2 linked regions of the Homo sapiens genome follow. The protein of the gene in region 2 purifies or fractionates together with the protein of the main gene of each other region. This does not show direct contact. Each region holds a gene or a part of one and is shown on either strand. Other genes may lie near its edges.

Region 1 (4,259 bases), on a different chromosome or scaffold from region 2:
AATAAAATGCGGCCTCTGATTCAGTAGCCTTGGACAGGACCAGAGGTTCTGCCTGTTCTGATGAGTTCCCAAGTGAGGCGGACAGTGCCAGTCCACAGACTCACACTTTGAGATACAACACCTGGGCCGTTGTGTCCAAATCCACTTGATAACCTGGAGCACTTATTAAATATCCAAATTGCCAGGACTTTCCTCTGGAAATCTGGATTCAGTATGTTTTGGTTGGAGCCTTGGGCATTTGGGAAAACTAGAATTTCTTTCTCTCTCTTTAGACAAAAGTCAACTACTGTTGAGGCATGGGCTTAATAAATGTTGACTAAAATATCCAACTCAACGACCAATCCTGTACAGTTTTCAAACGGTGTTAGTAACTTATTTGCAAATAATAAGGAACAACTTATTCCTCATCACACTGAGGAGCCGTGTGACCCATCGTGCTGGATCAGAGATGAACACCAAGCACGCTCCTAACACCAATGTCACCCTGAACGTCAACAGGAAACATTGGCCGTGGAGAAGTTGTTTAAACCTCTTGAAGCATCTTGCCAACGACGAGACTTCAATAATCCTCCTTTATTCACAAAAAATTTAAAACCAGTGGCAACAACGGCACATTACTTAATAAAGCAACTAAGTTAGAAGTGCAAGACACTGATTTATATGCTGTTGATAGGTCTGGAGAGACAGGACCATTCACTAGGCTGAAAAGGTGGTGGCCATCTGGTATCTTCCTAAAAAAGTTTATCAGGGTCCTGGCCAGGCGCGGTGGCTCACGCCTGTAATCCCAGCACTTTGGGCCGGCTGAGGTGGGAGGATCACGAGGTCAGGAGTTTGAGACCAGCTTGACGAATATGGTGTAACCCTGTCTCTACTTAAAATACAAAAATGACCCCAGCGTGGTGATGCACACCTGTAGTCCCAGCTACTCAGGAGGCTGAGGCAGAAGATTCACTTGAACCCGGGAGGTGGAGGTTGCAGTGAGCCGAGATTGTGCCACTGGACTCCAGCCTGGGCAACAAAGTGAGACTCTGTCTCAAAAAAAAAAATAATAATAATAATAGAAAATAAAAAATAAAATAAATAAATAAATAAATAAATAAATAAATAAAAAGTTTATCAGGGTCCTAATCCTTTCCCAGAAGGCAAACTAAAGCCTGGAGCAAGACAAGGTCTTCTCCAAGGCCACACAACTGTCAGTGACAGAGGATTCAGTTCAAAGTCCTGTCTTTTCAGGCCTGTGCCTACAAACCAACCGTTAATCTGAGTATTTCAACCTGGCCAAAGGCAACACAAAACACCCAACCCTATATTTTTGGGAAAGAAAAAAACGGGGGCAACTGAGCAGACAGACAGAGGCAAGTACAATGTGGCCTCCTAGATAAACCTCAATGCGCTTATTTCTTTTGGCACAGACACTTCCTTCTTAATTTTGAAGGAAAGTCACATCACATTACATTCTATCTGTCCCTAAGAATTAAACCCTGTTAGGTGAGCCAAACTTAAACACATTAAATTCTACAAATAGGCCAGGCACAGTGGCTCACGCCTGTAATCCCAGCACTTTGGGAGGCCAAGGCGGGCGGATCACCTGAGGTCGGGAGTTCGAGACCAGCCTGACCAACATGAGAAACCCCCGTCTCTATTAAAAATACAAAATTAGCCTGGCGTGGTGGGCCATGCTTGTAATCCCAGCTACTCGGGAGGCTGAGGGAGGAGAATAGCTTGAACCCAGGAGGCGGAGGTTGCGGTGAGCCGAGATCGCCCCATTGCACTCCAGCCTGGGCAACAAGAGCGAAACTCCGTCTCAAAAAAATAAACAAACAAATAAATTCTACAAATAGCCATTAGAATTATTAGGATAGAAAACGATGATGGGTACTAACAGATTCACTCAGAAGGAGTGGGCAGCTAATTCACATTATGTGTAGCTCTGGCTTGGAGAAGACACAGGGCTTGGAGGAGGCAAGACTGTTCAGCATGAATTAAAATTGATTTATGAGCTTGCTGTAGCACTTGGAATAGAAAAAAGAATCTTTTCAGCGCCTTTGACCCCTCTCTCAAATTACACCAGGGTGCAACTGAGGAACAACAGTGCCGACCACCCACTTTTCTCGACCCTTGGGGAAAATAACTTTTTTTTGGAAGGGAGAGTCAGTAGATGAGGCTGCATTTTCCACCAGGGAACACGAACTGCTGCGGGAAGATCCCAGCTTCTGGCTAAAGGAGCCGCAGGCCAGCTCGCCATCCAGTCCCCAGAGCCCGGGCTTTAGGTAAAGCGTGGAGATGCAAATCAGTTTCGCCGCCAAGGACCGGCCAGGCGCGTCTCCTCCCGGGCCTCGCAAGGAACAGGTCAGGGAGACGACTTCCAACTTTCTTGGCCGGACCCTAAACGTTCACCGCCCCTGCCCAGCCGCCCACTCCTGGGCAGCCAGCAAGTCTCCATTCACAAGCGGCTCCATGCTGCCCAGCACTGGCGCCCCTGAGGCGCGGAGCCCCGCAGCCAAATGACAGGACTTGGGGGCAAACAAGGACAAAAGTTCCCACCAGGTGGGCACTGCAGGAAGGAGGCCGACAACCCCGAGATTCTCCGAGTCCCGCGGCACGTGCGCTGCGACGCTGGCCGCTTCCCCCGCCGCTCGGGAAGGTCACGCCGCCCGCACACCGAGGCCCGCCCCGCGCCCCGCTCCCCGCTCCCTCTGCCTGGCGCGCTCCCCGCAGCTGCAGGCGCCAGACCGGGCTGCGCTCACCGCCGCGCCGGCGTGGCCGCGTCCAGCTCAGGCTCCGCCGCCCGCTCTCGGCTCCGGGTCGCCGGCTGGGGCGGCCACTTAACACCCACGTCGGCAACGGCCGGCCCTTCGCCCCTCCCTTCGCGCAGGCATCCCGGACTGCGGCCCCGCGAAGCTCAGGAGCGCCCCTGCGGCTGGCGGGCGGCCTGCCCAGGGCCGTGCCCGAGCCGAGACCGGGAGCCGCCACCGCCCACCGGCCCTGCCACCGCCCCCAGCACGGGAAGCGGAAGTGGGCGTGGGGCCGCGGCGCGCACAGCCAGCCCGCGACCCGGCGTGGTGCTGCCGCCGACCCTGGTGAAGGTGGAGAGCGGGGCCTGCGCCTCCGGAGACTTTCCCACCTCTGGGATCCCCGAGACCCTCTCTGAGGCCGGACCCTTGTTAGCCCGCTGGGCTGGGACTGGGGGCTGGGGGCTGGTAATGTCAGTGGTTGGGAGGACTTACTTTTTAGCTACTTTGACCTTGTTGGGAGGCTAAGGCCTTATTTATAAATTATATTTGAGTACAAAATTATACTCGGGATCCAAGGCCCTAATAGGAAATACAACTAAGTATGAAAATACAGGAATTAGCCGGGCATGGTGGCTCACGCCTGTAATCCCAGCACTGTGGGAGGCCGAGGTAGGCGGATCACCTGAGGTCAGGAGTCCAAGACCAGCCTGGCCAACATGGTGAAACCCCGTGTACTAAAATTACAAAAATTTATCCAGCGTGGTGGTGCGTGTCTGTAACCCCAGCTACTAGGGAGGCTGAGGCAGGAGAATCGCTTGAATCTGGGAGGTGAAGGTTGCAGTGAGCCAAGATTGCATCACTACACTCCAGCCTGGGCTACACAGCGAGACTCCGTTTCATAAAAACAAACAAACAACGACAAAAAAAAAAAGGTGTGGTGACACATGCCTCTATTCTTAGCTATTTGGGAGGCCAAGGCGGGAGGATCGCTTGAGGCCAGGAATTGGAGGCCGCAGTGAGCTATGATGGCACTGTTGCACTCCAGCCTGGATGACAGAGACCTCATCTCTCTCTCTCTCTCTCTCTCACCCACACACACACACACACACACACACACACACCCTCCACACAGTGTAATTTTATTTTACAACTTTAAGCCTTGTTTAGATGTGCTGTTGGATTATTATTTTTTTCTTTTTTTTTCTTTTTTTTTTTGAGACAGAGTCTCACTCTGTCACCCGAGCTGGAGTGCAATGGTGCAATCTCAGCTCACTGCAACCTCCCCCTCCTGGGTTCAAGCGATTCTCCTGCCTTAGCTTCCCAAGTAGCTGGGATTACAGGCATGCGCCACCACACCCAGCTAATTTTGTATTTTTTAGTAGAGACAGGGTTTCACCACCTTGGCCGGGCTGGTCTCGAACTCCTGACCTCAGGTGATCTGCCTGCCTCGGCCTCTCAAAGTGCTGGGATTACACGTGTGAGCCACCACGTCTGGATGTGCTATTGGATAATTACCTACGTTAT
Region 2 (3,500 bases):
AAACCAGGTCCAGTACACAAATTTTAATGTGATTAAAGTTAGCATATGCTTCACTTTGCTCCTGATAGTTACTTATTCAAGGATTTACATCATCAGGACCTACGTGTTTGAAGAGGAAAGAAGGAGATGGAATCAGCTCATATTCACAAAATCCGTTCTTACACATCTTCTAACATCACCAGCAAGGAGTTGGGGCTGCCCCTCCTAGACTCCACAGAGACCTCAGTCTGCATTTTTGTGATTTTTGTTCCTTTCTGGGCTACCACTGATAATTCTGTTTTCTTGGCAGGAGGTAAAAAGTAAATAAAAGAAGATGAATATTATTATTTTTTTTTTACCCAGCCTCTCACAAACTACATGCCACCTGAGGCCTTGATTTAAAGTCTTTAGTGAACTTTTCAATGATTTAGTTTCCCTCCTTTGTTACAGAGAAAAATGAAAGCACTGAATCAACACCCCTGACCTGCTTTTTATTTAAAAATTTTAAGAACCTTAAAATGATTCAAAATCCTTTTACACAGTAGGATGATGAGTAAGGATTTGTTGTGATAATTGGTGTTTAAGATATCTAGCATGTGTCAGCCCAAAATGTTATCAGTGATGACAAATCCTTGGTCATCACTGATAACATTAAGATCCCCTGATGAAATGTGTTCCAAAGGAAAAAAGATCTACATTTGATGTGGTTTCCAAAAAATAAAAGAAATAATCTTTATAAGTAAATATGTATATCTTCATAAATGATTAAGTAATATGGCAGAAAACTAAAATTCTATTAGTCTGAAAATTTCAAGATCCAATGTTTCCCACTACTGTAACTTGTGAGCCAAGAACAAAAACCTCATCATATTTAAACAAAGTTCCTACCAATATCTCTCAGAGTAAAACAGTGGTAGCAAATGTTTACATAGTGCTTACTCTGTATCAAAGCACTGTTCTAAGGGCTCAGATATATTTACTCATTTAATCCTTATACTCTCTTATGTGGTCTTAATACTATATTCATTTTACTTTGAAGGGGACTAAGGCACAGAGTGGTTAAGTGATTTGCACAAAGTCACACAGCTAGTAAGTTTCAGAGCTAGAATTTAAACCCAGAGTGCCTAAGTCAAACATCTGTGCTGAAGCTCTCTGTTAGCCTACTAATTCCTGCAGAAGAGGATGAGGTTACATACTGGAAAGGTCCAGGCTATTCCCCACTGGGGAATATAATGTCTTTTCATATTCAAACATATCTCAAAGATCTCACTTTCTTTTCATTTCCACTGTCGCCCCCTTGTCCAAACTACCTTTTCTTCCTGTTGCAGGCAATGTATTCATTTTTAAATTTATCTCCTCGTTTCCATTTCTGACTTTCTCCAAAGACCTTGGTGGCAGAGTTATCGTCTCAAAACATAAATTAAATGATGTAATTTTCTTGCTCAAAATGCTATCATAGCCTCCCACTGGGCTTGGAATAGAATCCAAATTCCTTATTGTAAACCACCAGGCCTTACGTGAGCAGGCCCCCGCCTATCTCTGCAAATGTGCTTCCCCACTTCCCCCTCATGCACTAACTGAACTCCAGCCTTTTTTTTTTTTTTAAGTTCAGTGACACACCAAGTTTTCCATCCATTGGGGATTTGGTACACTCTGCTTTCTTTGCCTGAAACACCACTGCCCTCCTTCTTCACCTAACTCTTAGAAGTCTTGGCCTAAATGTGGTTTCCATAGAGAAGCCTTATATAAAACCTCCCCTATTCAAAATTATATTCAGTTGATGTTTTCGCAGGCCCTGTTCTCTTTCTAATTCTGCATTTATTTGTGTGTTTACTGGTTTATTGTATGTTTGTCCCAGTAGGCTGTAAGCTCTATGAGGCAGGAATCAGATCTGATCTACTCCAGCCCCACCTTCGTGTGCCCCAGTATACAGACCAATTCCTAACACTTTATGGGCACTCAATAGGTATGAGCCAAAACAACAAACTGGTGCTCAGGCCATGGTCCCAAATACAGATTACATTTTACATTGGGATCCACTATATTTAAATCTTCACAGAGAATCAGATCTGTTCTATGATTAACTCTTTTCAAATAAATGCTCTTTTCCTTTACAAATCTTTTCTTAATCCTCCCAAATAGAGGCAGAGCAGTTTTTCCTTTATAGTACAACTCTGCCTAGTGTATATTTCTGTTATTATATTCACTATATCCCATCCCACCCTCTGTCCATCTTATTTTCATATTTGTTTCTTTCGGAGGACTGAATCCTTCTAAAGAGCAGGGAACAATGAGTTACTCGTTTTGAATCTTCAATCCCTAGCCAAAAATCTAACATATAGCAAGTGCTCAATAAATGCTTGCTGGACCAATAAATAAATGCATAAAATCAAGTTACAAAAAAAACCTCAATTTTAAAAAATAAAATGTATACACTGGCTCTGATGTTTAGTGTTTTAAGACATCATTTTCCTAATGCTAAATTACACCGTTTAATCCTATCAAAAATATTATTATTCCACACGATTTTAATGATCAAAATTTCCTTTCTGCCTTTTGTGATATCAATAAAACTAAAATAAAGCAATTGATAAAATTCCTTCAGTAAATCTAAAAAGTAAGCACTTGTACAGTAACTTACATTTTAGAATATATAAGTGTCTAGCAACTATACTAAAGTAAAATAGTGTATTGCCAGACCAGAAGTCAGCCACTAACTCTTCAATCTCAACTACTTCGAACATGGCTGAAAATCAAAAAATAAGGACAAAAGATTTGGAAGTGTCAACATATATCACGAATTCATCTCACTCCGAGCTGATTTACTTATTCAGGGACATTCACTCTTGCTTCATGCATAATTCTAACATGCTAGATTTTAAAACTCACAAAAATATTAAGAAAACATAATTAGAAGGAGGACTAAAGACTACCAGAGGCAGGCACAGTGACAAAAGCAAAAAGTTGCAGCTGTCAGGAAAGTGGGAATCAAACATTTATTAAAAGTATTCATAAAACTAAAAAACAGAAAAATTATTTAAAAGCCAACAGTAGTCTTTGAGGCATTTTGTTTAGTAACAAAGGACACTTTTTAGGACTGAAAATGTTATATAGTCTGTAGTATAATCCTATGACTTATTTTAATCAATTAATATTGATTCAACCAATTAATATTCATTATAATAACTGCTTTATCAAGAAAAATAAAATTGTTCTTAGTATATTTTAAGATAGCAAAATATCCAATACATTTTGTAATTCCATGCCAAATGATTAAAACAACTACAGCATAAATGTTTAAAGCACAAACCTTTAGCAATCAAAAAATCTAAAATAGCCAGAATAATGCATATTCCAAGAATTCTAGATAGCTAATTTTTTACTATCCTGAAATGCTATCATAATTTTTAAATAAAGAAACCTTATTCTGGGAGAGTATGCACATATATGGCAACCTGAGAGTACTCTTCAAAAATCTGAAATACATATAAAAAGCATAAACACAAAAAGCTACTATACCT

What was found. Proteins that work in one complex are often made in the same cells at the same time.
Region 1: the proteins of EYA4 (region 2) and SLC25A15 purify together in Homo sapiens (affinity purification with mass spectrometry, with the first as the bait; one large-scale study listed by BioGRID). This does not show direct contact.

The regions. Positions count from the first base shown.
Region 1 is NC_000013.11:40,788,152-40,792,410, reverse strand, and holds the start of SLC25A15 (mitochondrial ornithine transporter 1), read right to left. Parts: upstream 2,801-4,259; 5' UTR 2,748-2,800; intron 1-2,747.
Region 2 is NC_000006.12:133,464,857-133,468,356, reverse strand, and holds part of EYA4 (protein phosphatase EYA4), read right to left. Parts: coding exon 3,499-3,500; intron 1-3,498. UniProt on the Homo sapiens protein: Tyrosine phosphatase that specifically dephosphorylates 'Tyr-142' of histone H2AX (H2AXY142ph). 'Tyr-142' phosphorylation of histone H2AX plays a central role in DNA repair and acts as a mark that distinguishes between apoptotic and repair responses to genotoxic stress.